2 separate regions of the Homo sapiens genome follow, and region 1 is linked to region 2. Evidence: fine-mapped expression QTL. A gene starts in region 2. The other region holds a variant in brackets. All regions are shown on one strand. Distances are between the middles of the regions.

What was found. PIP is the estimated chance that this variant, and not a neighbour inherited with it, causes the effect.
Region 1: its variant is the best candidate, but not a certain one, in a credible set for the expression of KBTBD3 in tibial nerve (GTEx, PIP 0.62).

The regions. Positions count from the first base shown.
Region 1 is chr11:106,134,006-106,136,924 of GRCh38, reverse strand. No RefSeq gene overlaps it. Among named protein-coding and RNA genes, the nearest start is that of LINC02719, 3.3 kb to the right of the region's middle. The variant C/T (reference allele first, on the strand shown) is at 1,751.
Region 2 is chr11:106,075,869-106,078,787 of GRCh38, reverse strand. KBTBD3 (kelch repeat and BTB domain containing 3) reads left to right here and starts at 1,441. Exons shown (of 4, transcript NM_198439.3): 1 at 1,441-1,476; 2 at 2,081-2,281. AASDHPPT (aminoadipate-semialdehyde dehydrogenase-phosphopantetheinyl transferase) reads right to left here and starts at 1,126. Exons shown (of 6, transcript NM_015423.3): 1 at 895-1,126. The coding sequence starts at 1,077. RefSeq lists enhancers at 859-1,098, 1,409-1,518, 1,529-1,648.

The DNA.
Region 1 (2,919 bases), 58 kb before region 2:
TGTTCCCATACTCCATACTGACTCTGTATGAGAACCAAGCCAACTTCATTGGTTTCCATCAAGATGTGCCATCAAGATGTGACTTTGTAGTGGGGTCATTTTACCCTGAGTAGGTGTCAGTGCTCCTGATTACCTTAAATACAGGTGTCTATGTTTTGGCTTAGAATAATTATAAAGAACCTCAGATGCAACTAGGTCTCAAGGAAAGAATAATTTAAAAGGCAACAGAGAAAACACTAAATCCGATCCCAGTGGTCTCAAATATGGTAAAGCAAATCAGAATTCACAGATAGAAATATCCACAAATCCAGTGTGATCAAGAGCATTCTGAGATGCAGTACACTGATTTCAGTAAGTGAAAGATAGATGTAGCTTTTCATGAACAGCCATAAAATCCTTTACAGTTTACAGAAAAGCAGCTATGTACTGATCACAATTTATTATTAGGAGCTTCAAACTCTGTCCAGTGCAGAGATGTAGGGGATGTGATTTTCCTCACCTTGATGTTAAATGGGGACAGATGACAGCCAAGATGAGAAAGTCAGAGTGAAAATCTATAGAAGAGTTCCAGGAACCCTTGTATATAACCTTCCCAGATCAGCTTGACAAAACTGGCAGAGCCAATCTAGAGAGCTAGAGAAAGGAAATGCTGGGGACAGGTACACCTGGAAAATTGGTCCTTGGAAAGTTACCTTTGATTTGCCCTCTGTATAAGCACTCAGGAATATGCTGAGTTTGTTACTAGTTATATACATCTTGTTGGCAAGCAGAAGAAGAGCTGGGAATCTACAGAATAGTCAAGAGAGGCAGGATTAAAAAAGCAAAAGTCTGAGAGAAAGGTAGAGGATACTACTCACGCAAAATTCCTGTCCCAACTGATAGTATCATTGTTAGCACCTTGGTGGGACCCTGAAGACCATTGACAGCTGCCCCTGTGGCTAGAATTGTGGCTGTCTCTACTGATCTGTGTAGCATCTGTATGTTCTTAGTTATATCCTTGACCTACATTAAAAGGAGTTGTTTTAGTTACCAGTATTTATTGGCATCTTTTTATTAATCATATCACAATTCTATTATGACAACAGCAGAAGAAGGTTCAAAGATCTCAAAGTCACACAACTTTTATTAGGTTTTGACAAACAGTACTCACTGATATTTAGCTTCTAGTGCTTCTTACTTGGCTATAATGCTGCCTTATGAAAATACTATACTAAGTGTATGAAAATACTAAGTGTATATTAAAATAAATAACTGTGATATAAAAGGAGGGATTCGGGACCATTTATTGGCCACCACCTATGCCAGATAATGCATATATGTTAACTCTTTATAGCAAACCATTTTATAAAGAACAAAACTTTTGCCATGGGTGTGATTGAAAGACTACATTTTTTAGACATAGTTAGGTGTCGACATATGACTATGTTCTAGTCAATGATAATATAAAGAAAGATTTTTAGAAAATTCTGGGAAGTGTTCTTTAAAGGTGGGATCATGCCATTCTTTGCTTTCTCCATTCTGTTAGTGCATGTGAGGCTGGAACTCCAGCAGCTATTTGGGATCTTTAAGGCAAAGACCACACCTTAGAGGATCAGAGCTGGTTTATGCCCAATCATAAGGATTCTGTACCATACTTCTTGTCTTCTCCTGTATGAGAGAGAAAGATGTTCTTAATATAATTTAGCCAGCATTGATTTAGGGTTTTCATTATATGCCACTGAACATAATTGTAACTGGTAGAAGAACATAA[C/T]TAACATTCCAATTTCACAGACCTAGTAAACAATAAAGGCAGGATTCAAACCTATTCCAAGTCACATCTGAATGAGGCCAAAGTATTCTAGAAAATAATCCAGTGAAGATAAATATGTCTTTTGGATTTAGTTCTCCAGGAAACAGATTCTGAGATAGAAGTTGGAGATTTGAATAGAAGAAACTTAACTGGGAAATTCTATCAGGAACCACCTCCATAAGGACTGGACATAGAAAAAAATGAACTGTGAATTCAGTTGCAATTGAGGATTCAGTAAATCTCATGGGGAACTTCAAAGCTGGAAGACTCTTTAGAGATGTCTCAAATGTAGGGAGGAGAGCAGGTCATTTGAGCCCCACCTTAACCAGTCATTGAATGCCAGCTGTCCTCAGTGAAGGGTCATAGCCTTGGGTGAGGTGGCTCCTGGGAAGGGGCTCTGCTATGAGCCAGCACTAGAGCTAACACTCCAAACTAGAGAAACGAGTGCCTTTGTTCTGCAGTTGTCCCTAGGTGACACCAGAGCCTCCACTGTAATGTGTTCACAATTAATGAGATAATCAAAAGGACTTAAATCTGTTTCAAATATGATCTTAGAACATATGTTCACAGTCACTCACTCACTTCAGTGTGACACATACTTGAATATCCAATGTACGCAAGGTGTTATGCAAACTACGATGACAAATATAAGGATGATTTGGATATATGTTCAGTTCTCAAGAGAACAAAATGTAGATGATAATGATGTATCATGCAAGGCTGAAAATGACATTTGTAATAAAAGAAACAAACATATGACCTGAGAATTCAGAGGAGAAAGACATTATTTCCATCTGAGAAATTAGGAACATTTTTATGGAAATGCCAGCACTTCAGCTGGACCTTGTAAGTGGGTAAGATTGGAACATGTAAAGACAAGAGTGGGCTTATGAGAGGTATTTTAAGGTGAGGAAATAATGGCAACAGAGATGAGTAAGAAGAAAGTTTCGTTTGGTTTAAGTATAAAGTAATGAAGGGAGATAGAAAAACTTCCCATAACAGAAGAAGTTTAAGGTATATTTTGCCAAGAGTTGCAAATTATGGAATTAATTCCATAAGCATGAGGGGTCGCTTGAAGCACTTGGAGCTAGAGAATGACATACCAGAAGCTTTATTTCAGAAATATTAAT
Region 2 (2,919 bases):
CAAAGTATATATTTTTAAAAATATCTTTCAGGTTTTTTTCTTCTTCAATTCTAACACTGACTTTTAAAAACTGCAGGCTTTTAAATGTAGCTTATTTTACAATTCCTTACAAATGAGTAAAAAATTTTCACCAATGTGCCTTAAAAATTATCAACTAGTCTACATTTCAAACAGAAAGTGTTTCAATATGGGACATTTTTAAGAAAGGACTGTCTTTTAAATGATGGTAATTCACGGTTGTTTCAAATTGCACCATATTGTACAGATTACTTGTTTTGAAATCCAGTTTTCCATTTGTTGCTTCAAAATACATAGCTAAAATAAATAAATCTACGTAAAATACTGTTTCCCATGGCATCTAGTGAGGAAGGTATCCTCTCTGGCTTCAATTTCATTGGCTTCAATCCCGGGGAGCGCAGGGCTACAAACTAAATCATACTGTCAATAATTTCTAGGGCCTACCACGTGCAGGGAGTCCTTGGAGAATGATGGGATATTTAACAGGCAGAATAAGCATAGGCTATGAACGCACACAAACAAAAAAAAATAACATTTAAAGATAAAGACATAAAAACATTCATTACAGAAAAACCCAATTTTGTCGGCCTTCCCTACACTTATTTCATGGTTTAGGAGGGTCTCCATTTGAAATAACAAGGGGAAAGAGATAATGTTTACAGCCATCGCGGCCTCCAAGGCGGTTACAAAGGCCGTGGAAACCAGGCCGTGCGTCGCCCACAACTCCGCAGCGCCGGCTGCTGTCGCCCGGGCCGGCCACAGGCTCCACAGCGAGAGGGTCGCGGCCAGCGCGGGAGTGTCGGGTCTCCACAGCCCGGCCCGCCTCCCCCAAGATCTGCTTCCTAGGCTCTAAATACCAAAAAAGACCTGTAGTACCATGGCTGCCTTAGCGTCCCGGGCAAAGACGAACTGGCCAATGCGCTCCTTCTCCTCGGGCTGAATCGATCGCACTGCCAGCAGCCATTCGGCTCGGCTCGGCAGCCAAGTGCCGCAGGAAAAGGCCCAGCGCACGCCCTCCATGGATGGCACCAAGCAGAACCGTTTGGCAGGGAAAACCATACACTGAAAGCGGACCTCGCCGCTATCTCGGGCCTGATGGCGCGGACGCAAACGTGGCCCCACCCCCTTCTTCCCGGCGTCCGTGCGCAGGGGACGGGCCGTCGCTACGCAGACTGGCCCACCGACAGCCCTCCCAGCCCGCCCCCGACTCAGCCACCTCCTCTCGGAGAAAGCAGCTGGGGGCGGAGACGGAGATCAGCCCTGCGCTTTGCGGCATTGTATGACGTCAAGTAGGCGAGGCTTCGGAGGCGAGCGAAGGGCGGGACCAAGGCCAAGAGCCCGACAGTTACGCCACTCACACTTGCGGAAGAGTTAACGGGACAGCGGTGCAGGCCAATCGCAACCAGTCCTCTGGAGGCAGGGAGACTGGGGTGGAGACTTCGGAGACTGCAGTTGCAGGTGGGTGAGCTCCGGGGTCTGAGGGAGGAGTGGGATGGTAGCCCTTATTCTCAGGGTCTGAGTTGGCCCCTGTGACCCACAGAGAAGAGAATGTCCTTGGCTTCAGCTGCTTCGTGTACGGGGCACGAGAGGTTTCCATCTCTAGGAGGGGGTCTGCAGTGGTGCCCCCTGCAGTTGTGCAACGCATCAGCCCTGAGTTCCTTCTTTCCCTGCCCCCATCCGCATCAGCCTAAGACCCACCCTCACACAGTACGCTCCCGACCCTTAGCAGCAGCCTACCTGAAACCCTCCCTCCGAAGGCCGAGCAGAGGCACTATCCCCAGTGCGCAACACTGACCCCGCCTGGATCCGAGGCTGCCAGCGAGCAGCTGAGCTAATGCTGGCTGTTTATTTGGGGCGATGAAGCGACCCAGGTGCTGTTTTGCTATTGCCAAGCCTGGGCTAGAGCACTAGCGAGAAAACAGGATTCCATTGTTGAGGTATCAGTGTTTCCATCATGACAGAGGTCCTTGCTCTAACAGCAACAGAAACAAGTAAATAACTTTGCTCAGTTATTTTCTCAGACTTTGCGAAGGGTCATATTGATGTATGTCTGTTTCCTTAGTTGTTCCGTGTAGGCTGTTGTTGACTCTCGTATGAAAGCCCACGCGATCCAAGTGCCCTGCAGGTTTTGGTCCAGGGAAAAGTTGGTCTCTGCAGATGACTGTAAATGACTACCTGGAGGTCGATTAAAGTGCGGTACTGCGGGATTCAGCCGATTTCCTTCTTCCTCTGACTGCCCGGAAATATCAGCCAAAGGCCAGCGGTAGTAATTAACACAATTACCTGCCTATGATTTCTGTCCTATTTAAGATGGGTTCTATTATGTTTTTATCTATACTTGTCTTCATTAACTTTTCGTGATATCATAAGCCCCCCGAATCCCTCGAAAGTAGATGGGATTCTGAGCACACACACACACAAATTCAGATCCCCAAAGGACAGTAAAACGAATTATTGGCTTAATATATCATCTTAGCTAACCAAAAGCCTGTGTCAGCTGCCATGTTGAAAATCTGCTTACCAGCTGCAGGGAGCTTACAATCTGGTAAGGCAAATAAATCATACGCATAAAAAGTACAATAAGAGACAGTGTAAAGATACGTAAGTGATACTAATACCCATATCAGCAATGATCATAACTCACTTCTCCATTTTTAACTAAGAATCATATAACCTTTCCTTCTTGTCGTTTTAAACTGATTTTTATAACTTTGATACATTACGTTTCTGTTTCCAAAACACTTCTGTGTACGTTATTGCACATGTTCTGTGCACTAGTTATTACTGATGGAGACAATGAGCTCAGAAAGAGAATTTGTTTAAATTCAGGAATTCATATCCCATTATTTTACCATCGAGCAAGATCTCTGTGTATTAGATCTATGGAGCCTAATACACAGA